Regions from separate parts of the Homo sapiens genome. Here region 2 is linked to region 1. The links come from fine-mapping of genetic effects on gene expression. A gene starts in region 1. The other region holds a variant in brackets. All regions are shown on one strand. Distances are from middle to middle.

Evidence for each region. PIP is the estimated chance that this variant, and not a neighbour inherited with it, causes the effect. A credible set is the group of variants that fine-mapping cannot tell apart.
Region 2: its variant is the best candidate, but not a certain one, in a credible set for the expression of SPAG16 in testis (GTEx, PIP 0.50).

What each region holds. Positions count from the first base shown.
Region 1 is chr2:213,281,835-213,286,236 of GRCh38, reverse strand. It overlaps SPAG16 (sperm associated antigen 16), which reads right to left and starts at 1,773. Exons shown (of 16, transcript NM_024532.5): 1 at 1,618-1,773. The coding sequence starts at 1,753. It overlaps SPAG16-DT (SPAG16 divergent transcript), which reads left to right and starts at 2,028. Exons shown (of 3, transcript NR_161186.1): 1 at 2,028-2,204. RefSeq lists enhancers at 1,371-1,450, 1,521-1,570, 1,611-1,740.
Region 2 is chr2:214,211,842-214,216,243 of GRCh38, reverse strand. All of the region lies in intron 15 of SPAG16 (sperm associated antigen 16), which reads right to left. Among named protein-coding and RNA genes, the nearest start is that of VWC2L, 200 kb to the left of the region's middle. The variant G/A (reference allele first, on the strand shown) is at 1,867.

The DNA.
Region 1 (4,402 bases):
CAACGGTTAGTAAAATCCTAAAAAGTTACAGTTGCTTATATGTGTTAAAGTTCAAATAAGTGTGATTATTTGAAAAAGTCTTTGTAAGACAGGTTTGCAAACTGCTACATCTTGGCAGGTGTGACTCAGTGATCTCCCTGCACATTAAGTAAACCTGATTTTCATTGCTGAAAGTTGTGTTATGTTAGACTCCTACCATTTATTTCACAAAGATGTTTGCAAAAAGTTACCTCATTGTGTCAATCTCATGTTAACAATTAAACTATGTGTTCACGGAAATAATTTTAATGCAAACAAAATTACAAGATGCCTGGTTACCATTCAGTAGCAAGGGCACTGGATATAGATAAGCTTAGGAAGAATTATGAAAATCGTTGTTAAAGAGGAATATCACTGGAAAAGACTGCCTGTTACATCTACGAAAACAGTATAAAACCTCATTTATGACACTAAAGCACCCATATATTTCTTTCAAATTCATTTCAAGCGATTCAAATTTCTATTCCTGTAAAAGTCGTTTTTGCACCCAATAAAATACTACATATTTTCTTTAATCTTTCAGCTAAATTCTTCAAAGCTCTCTGTAGTGTGGATGTGTACTGAGCCTGAGTCAGGACAGGTTAATCGGCTTGTCAAAGCTCACGAAATGAATCATTGCTGGATTTCTGAAATCTTGAATTAAACCTGGAGAGGATTACAGTTGGACAAACAAATAAGATTTGGCAGATTTTGGAGTTTCCTTGGTATCTTTAAGAACTGAACAGATAATCATCTCTTTCTTACCTCCCTGAATAAAGGAGTTACATGTCTTTTTCTCATGAACCCTCCCCGTCTCCCTAGTAGGAATTAATCTATATAACTAGAGGAAAGAAGTTCTAAAGCCTTACACAAGAAATAGTGGACCTAATTATCCACACATTGTTATTCAATTTTTCTGGTACTTCCGATAAAAATCGCTAATCACCATCTGCTTTATTCCTAATATCTCTGAGCTGTGTAGCTCACCAGATCATTATTTATTTGCTCAAGAAAAAAAAGCAACTATACTATTAGTATTTATTATTAAGTAGTCAAACTTGGAACTACTCAGGAAGATAATGCTATCAAAACTAAGCATTTAAGCATTAACTGGACCATCGAACAGGATCGTGGGTTGGGTATTCTGAGCTTCAGCTCCTTAAAGTCCAATGGCAGAGGTCTTTCCCTAGTCTCCTAACGTTCCTCCGTTGAATTTATTGGGACGGCTTTCTGAAAGATTGAGGGCTTATTTAGGAAACCCATTATTTGAAAGGAGGGTTGAAGCAATTTGTTGTGCTGTCTTAACATAAAAAGCAACCCTCCATCCAAAATGTACTGAGTGGTTACTAAGTATGAGGCCTTGGAAGGTCTCCCAACTCTTCTAACAGGTACAGGACACCCTGGGCTACTAAGGGCGAGAAATTCAGTGAGTGGCTCTCAGGAAGACTGTGGTGGCAAAAACAGCACCTTGAAGTCCAACAGAGGCTCCTCCGGAGTGGCCCCAAGGCTCAAAAGGCGCCGCCAGTGGGAGGCCCTCGCCTTCGTCCCAACACCCATTACCCGCCAGCGCAGCGGGCCGCGCCTCCACGGGAAGGATACGTTCCAGGTAGTAGGCGCCCTCAGCCGCCACCGCGTCCGCCGTGTCCCTCGCGTCCCCGGCTGCCGTCAAACCCATGCCCAACGCCTCTTCCAGGACCCTCACGGCGGAGCTGGGCATCCCTCGCTGAGCAGCCATCTCTGGCGCTTCGGGCCCCCACCCCCAGCAGGCCCACAGCCGTCCCTAAGGGCAACAGCGAAGACGCTACCCAACGGCCCCCGGGAGCTCTCGCGAGATTCCGGCATCTCTCACCCCGCCCCACGGACCAGCCCCGGGCACGTAAGGGTTACCGGGAGTCCAGGGAGCTGTCGCCCTCCCGCGCCTCCCAGTTACCGTGGCAACGATGTTGCCTAGTTAACGCGAGAGCTCGGGCGCAGCTCTGGGAGCGGACAAGATACAGTAAACAATTGGCTTGCATTGCACCTTCCTACCCAAGCAGCTTGGTTTTCTTTCGCTTTGACCCTGTAATTTCTTTCCCACTTCGTTGTCGTCTCTGAATTACCTTTCTCTTGATTCTTGCCCATTAGCATCCTCCAATTTCAGATGTTTGTAGATCCCCAAGTGTTCCCAGGGAAAACTACTAGAAAAGGTGAGTTCTCAACACCTGGAATTTTTTAAAAAATGAAAAAATAAAGTTCTAGAAATCATAATAGAAAGACTGACCCAGGGGAGCTACCAGACGCTCCTCAGATGCTTAGCAATGAAGAACTATGGTGTTCAGCTTTGTCAATTCCTTTCTTGTGATCTTTAATGCATTTAGCTGGACATCTGTTTTGAGTTTGGTTCCATATACTAAGACTTGGAATAGTATTTGTAGCATTGATTCTCGCCAAGGTAAAAACAGTTGCATAAAAATTATGAGCTACAAATTTGGTCCTGACAAATGTATGCAGTTGACACTTGCCCCATCATGTATAGTCTTATTGCTGAGAGGATCTTCCTCAGGTTATATCGCGTATGTATCAGAAGCAAATTCAAGGCCCTTTTCTTTGCAAATATTTTTTTTTCCCTTAACTTTTATTTTAGGTTCAGGGGTACAAGTGCAGGTAAGCTCATGTCGCAGGGGTTTGGTATATAACTTATTTCGTCACCCAGGTACTAAGTGTAGTACCCAATAGTTATTTTTTCTGATCTTCTCCCTCCTCCCACTCTCCTCCTCAAGTAGGCCCCAGTGTCTGTTGTTCCTTCTTTGTGTCCATTTGTTCTCATTATTTAGCTCCCACTTACAACTAAGAACATGCAGTATTTGGTTTTCTGTTCCTGCATTAGTTTGCTAAGGATAATGGCCTCCAGCTGCATTCATGTCCCTGAGAGGACATGATCTCATTCTTCTGTGGCTGCATAGTATTCCATGGTATATGTGTACCACATTTTCTTTATCCAGTCCGTTGATGGGCATTTAGGTTGAATCCATGTCTTTATCATGAATATCAATGAACACGCATGTACATGTGTTTTTATGGTAGAACAATTTCTGTTTCTTTGGGTATATACCCAGTAATGGGATTGCTAGGGCAAATGGTATTATTTTTCATTCTACATTTCTTGGTGAAAACTGGAAGCCAGTGATCCTATAAAAGCTCCCATTTATTACCAAAAGGTAGCAGTAACTTCCTAAGGAGGTGTTTGAGAGTACGTGTGTCAGAGCCAGAGAGACAGCTTTCAGAGCCTGCTTCCATCACTTACTAGCTATGACACATTGGGCAAACTACTACTTAATGCCTCTAGGCCCCAGTTTCATCATTTGTAGAACAAAGACAACAATATTACCTACCTCAAAGTGCTGTTGCAAGGGGTAAAGCAACAAAAAGCATTAAGAACTTACTGGGAACATAGAAGACACTAAGAAATGTTAGCTGTTATTTCTATTAAATGTGTTTGATATTGTTTTATTTTTTAGAATAATCAAGGGTCACAGATATAATAGTCGGGTAATTCATTCCTGGTACCTATTCTTTTACTACCCTACTCTTTGTCCTTGACTTCTCACATCAGACATTTCCTGAGTACTCATTAAATGCAAGGAACAATTACAGGAGGCTGAAAATACAGAAGAATTCTGACATTGGAGAATCCACTGCTTTTACAGAAAGCTTTCTCTTTATTTCAGAAGAAGGCATTACCTTATCTCTCAAGGTTGTTTCCTATAAATCCAGCCTTAACAAATGACCTGGGTAAGGAGTGGTCAAGGCCTTACATTTTTGGCATATCCAGCAAGACATGTAGGAACACAAAAGACATGAAGGATGGTCTCTCAGAGCGATTACTGTTTACTTTTATTTGTTTTTGTTCGTTACAATGGCTCATCTATTTCTGACTTTTTAGATGTAGTGTGTGATCTTCTACAGATGTTTGTCTCCTGCCTCTTCTGTATGACCTTAATTAAGTTCTCTGAGCCTTAGTTTCCTGTTCTGTAAACCGGAGATTTTAGTACCTACCTTACTAAAGTATGAAGACTAAACGAAATATGTAGAAAGCACTTATAACCATGTCTGGTATATCAAATGTTTTCAGTAAATAATCGTTAATAAAATGTGCTTAAAATATTGAATGAATATGCAAGCTTAAATTAGATATTATATTTGGAAGAAACTTAAACATATAGAAACAACTTAAGATAAAAGTTAAATATTTTTAGAAATATGCAGCACTCAGCCAGGCACGGTGGCTCACGCCTGTAATCCCAGCACTTTAGGAGGCCAAGGCAGACGGATCACAAGGTCAGGAGATCGAGACCATCCTTGATAACATAGTGAAACCCCATCTCTACGAAAAATACAAAAAATT
Region 2 (4,402 bases), 930 kb before region 1:
CATTCATTATAAGATACTATTTATGTATTTTGCCAATATCTGAAATTTCACACATAAAAAACCAATGCTCATAATTTTCAATCCCAATCAATATCCATTCATAAAATGCTTTCTCCAACCTTCTGTCATTATTCTACCAATTTAAAATAAAACTTGGCTAATTTTATTGTCCTGAGGCATGAATTTCAAATTCCTGCCTCCAAGACTTTACATGCAATTGTTTGCAACCAGAATGGCCTTTCACTAACTTTTTGCAATGGGTATCTATCAGGCCTTTTCAAAGCTAACTCACATACTCTATTTTGATTTAGAAACAGAGTCATGTTTTCTTGGAACTAAGGCAGGAAAAAGTCTGAATGGATTAGGATCTAGACTGAATTATAACAAAGGTGGGATTTAAGCCAAAATCAAGGTAGAGGTCAGAACTGTTTGACAATATTGACAGATTAAGCTTATAGTAATGGTTGACAGAGGAGTGTATTGCAACTGGCAGAAGGAACAGAGGTCAAAAGAGAGACCACATAGGCTCAGTAGGAAAGCAATAGCATTATCATTGCAACAGTACGGGAAAGAGTTACAAAGAACACTTGTTGCTTGACAAGAGTTCACACTCAGTCATTCATCACTTATTTTCTTCAGTAATTTCACTGTCACATAAAAAGCAAGTTCAGACTTAGTAAGGAGAGACTTTATTTGAAAGTCTGTGGCAAGAGACTTCCTAGAAGGCTGGGGAAAGATAATGTTGCACTGGGGAGAAGGAGGTGACCATAAGGTCTACAAGCTTCTGAAGGGAGGAGTAAACAAAGCAAGAAAGAAGCAGTGTGGGGAAATGGAATCAAAGGTGGCCTGATAGGCTGGTAGGTTGGAGAATATCTTCCGTGAGGCCAGTCTATTCTATTCTTGGGAGGAGCTGAATGCTGGCTCACCTGGAGGTGAGCCAGAGGTCAGGGATCTTGAGGAAGGTTGGTTAACAGTCATTTTGTTCCAGCTGATCAGTTGGGACAAGCAGTTCCATTAGTCATTTCTGAGGCAAAGAATGGGAATTTGGAGGGTCTGTGTCTGGCCTTGCCTTATGTGAACAAGGGGGTCATCTATGAGTCTTGTCTAAGTCATATTGAGAAAGGTGGTTTCTGGCAATGTCTTTTTCTGGAACAAAAGAGTGATGGAATTTCTTAACCTTTAAATAAAATTTAATATTGTCATCACTAACATTTATGAAGTACCTTCTACCATATAACCATTGTACTGGGCCTTGGAGATGCAGAGATACGTTTTTTAAAGGCAGATTTGCCATAAATGTAATGAACCTTAGGCTCTGGTGACCCTCAACTGCACAGGTTGCTGTGAGATACTGACAGCTGCAGAGCATTCTAGATGGTAGAAAAAGCCAGGTTCCTATTAGGAAATATTTCTATGTAAGCATTTCTGGTAAATTGACAAGGGAGTTTGAGTCTTTAAATTTCCAGGCATTTGTTGTGATTTCTTTCCCAGTTCTAAATAAATATACCTAATTTTATATTAATAATATTATATTCTTTTTTTATAAAGAGGGCATCCCAGATTGCATAAACTTCTGTACCCACAAAATTTAGATCTGCCTAAATAAAATGATGTGGCTCTCAAGTACATCATTTGGAGATGGGTAAGAAACTCAACTGATATTTATAAGAATAGGCATTGGAATAGGTGAATCAGAGAGGAGACAAACCTACAGGCCTGGAATAGAGAATGCCAGGAAGGAACAGGAATTAAGGGAAGTTTTCAGTATCATAAGAAGTAACATATCAAAGAAAATATGGAAGACTGGGCATATTGGGAGGCCAAGGGAGGCAGATCACCTGAAGTCAGGAGTTTGAGACCAGCCTG[G/A]CCAACATGGTGAAATCCTGTCTCTGTTAAAAATACAAAAATTAGCCGGGCATGGTGGTACATGCCTGTAATCCCAGCTACTTGGGAGGCTGAGGCAAAAGGATCACTTGAACCTGGGAGGTGGAGGTTGCAGTGAGCCAGATTGTGCCACTGCATTCCAGCGTGGGTGACTCTGTCTCAAAAAAAAAAAAAGTAAAAAGGAAGGTTGGGAAGGATATTTTAGGCAGAGGGAACAGTATGTATGAATGACATGGAGATATAAGAAAGCAAATTGTTTCCATAGAATAAAAAAATATTGATATGGCTGGGTATAGGACACATGCGATGGAATAGTGGGAATGTAGGTTTGAGAAGAGAGCCCGAGTTCTATCACAAAAGGCACTATAAATAGAGTTTCACCTTAAATGAAGGGGCCATGAAGAAAATAAGATCCCTTAAAATTTCAAATTTATAAACAGATCACACTCATCTACAATTTTACTTCTAATGGATACTTATTGGTTCATAAAGGCCATGACCTTTATGGTCCAACTGTAAAGCAGAGGTAGCACCTTCACCTACCCAGGACCTCTTACTGACTATTTTGAGGAGATAGTAGTATACCCAGTAGATAGAATTGATTTTTTGAGTTATCACACAAGTTCTTTTTTTGAATACATGTGATTCTTAATTGGGCTCAATCCTTCTCTGAGCACATACATTCCAGGGGACAGTTTCCAAAATCTGGAGGAATATTTGGTTGCCACACTGGGTAGCTGGTAGAGGCCAGGAATGCTGCTAAACATCACACAATGCACAGAACAGCTCCTGTACATTATATTAAACTCAAAATGTCAACAATAATGCTATAGTTGAGAAGATTGCCACAAAACCTATGCTTGCTCCCTTGGGTTCAGGGAAGAATTCTAGCAGCTGGTCTCTGACCCTGGCCTTGACACAGCTCCCTGCCTGTTCACACTGCCTTGCGTTGTTGCACAGGTGGTTTCAGTGTGCTCAATGTGTATGGAGTTCTGTGAAGTCATCAGCTTTGCTTAAAATTCAGGCATTCAGGAATAAGTGACAGCTTTGTATGAACATTTGAATAAAAAAATTCAGGGGTGGGGATAAGTGGATAATCAGTCTGCTTTAAGATTGGATTAGGAATAAAGGTATTAATACATAATATGGTGCATGCATTATTTGCTTCCCCTGTGTGTGTGAGAAACTGGGAAAATCAATTTTAAAAGATTAGAATTCCCTTCACAACTCTGGAATGATTTGCAAATCTGGAAGGGTAAGGGAAAGGACAAGAAGGATAAGAAGCAGCTGAGTCTGAGTTGTTCAGGCAGCAGATGACGGGAATACACAACACACAAAGAACAAAGTACTCAATAGGGGAGGAAAAAGTTCTTTGATTATATTGACAATAATGGTGGCCCACCGTGCCTTCAGAGGTTAACGGGCAGGTGAGGAGTCTGTGCTGTGTGGACTTACATGTTCTAGTGTGCTGTGCACAGAGATGTGGCATTTCACAGTTCTCCCTCTAAAATTCCTCAGGTCCTGAAACTGAATCTTCAACTGGCTATTAGTTAGGGATCTTTCAATCTCAAGTGACAGAAATTGTATTCAAACTAACTGAAGAGAAAAGAAAGACTTTTTTGGTTCATCTATCGAAGGGATGAAAAATAGAAAGAGTAGAGCTAGCTGGGGTGATTCTGGAAACAAAAGCTCTTCCAGTTCTTGTTCCTTGCTTGGTGGCTTTAGTCTGCCCTTCTGGAGCCTGACTTTATCCAATCAATGGGGGTCTAACTTAGCATATAAATAGTGGTCCTCAACTAGGTACAGATACAGGGCACAATCACGGTGGAAGCCCTTGTGAAGCCTTCACTTCACAAGAGTCAAACAATGGACATGTAACCCGTGTATCAGGTAGTGCCAAGTTCTGTGAACCAAAAAGGAAGAAAGCAAAGAGATTGATGGATGCAGGGAGTGGGTGGTCGGGGAGGTGAGAAGGAGGAATTAATATCATAGGGAGGTCAAGGAAGTTACCTCTGAGGCGGTGATACTTGAGTAAAACTTGAAAGAAATAAGTGAAGGGATCACTTGTAGGTCTGGGTGATGAGCAGTTCTGGTAGATAAAAGACAAAATCAGGGAAAGCTTGCCATGTCTGAGGAACAGCAAGACAGTCAGAAACAAGAGAGTGAGGGAGAAATGGAGGAATTTAGAGAGGGGTAAACCAAGTATGTCTTGTCAGGCCACAGAGAGTAAATATTGTTCTATAATAAATGTAATGTGAATTCACTGGAGAATTTTAAGCTAAGAAATTACATACATAATTTGGTTTATATTTTACAAGTATATTTTGCTCTCTGGACAACGGCTTTAGCAAGATAAGAATGAAGTGGAAGACCAAATAGGCACCAAGTGTCACAGTAGCCCGAAACTAGAGTGGTAAATTGGAGGCCAGGAGAAGTGGGAAGTTTTGGGGGTTGTGGCAAAGGAAAACCAGCAGGACTTGCTGATGGGTGGAATGTAGGGTATAAGGAAAGATGATTT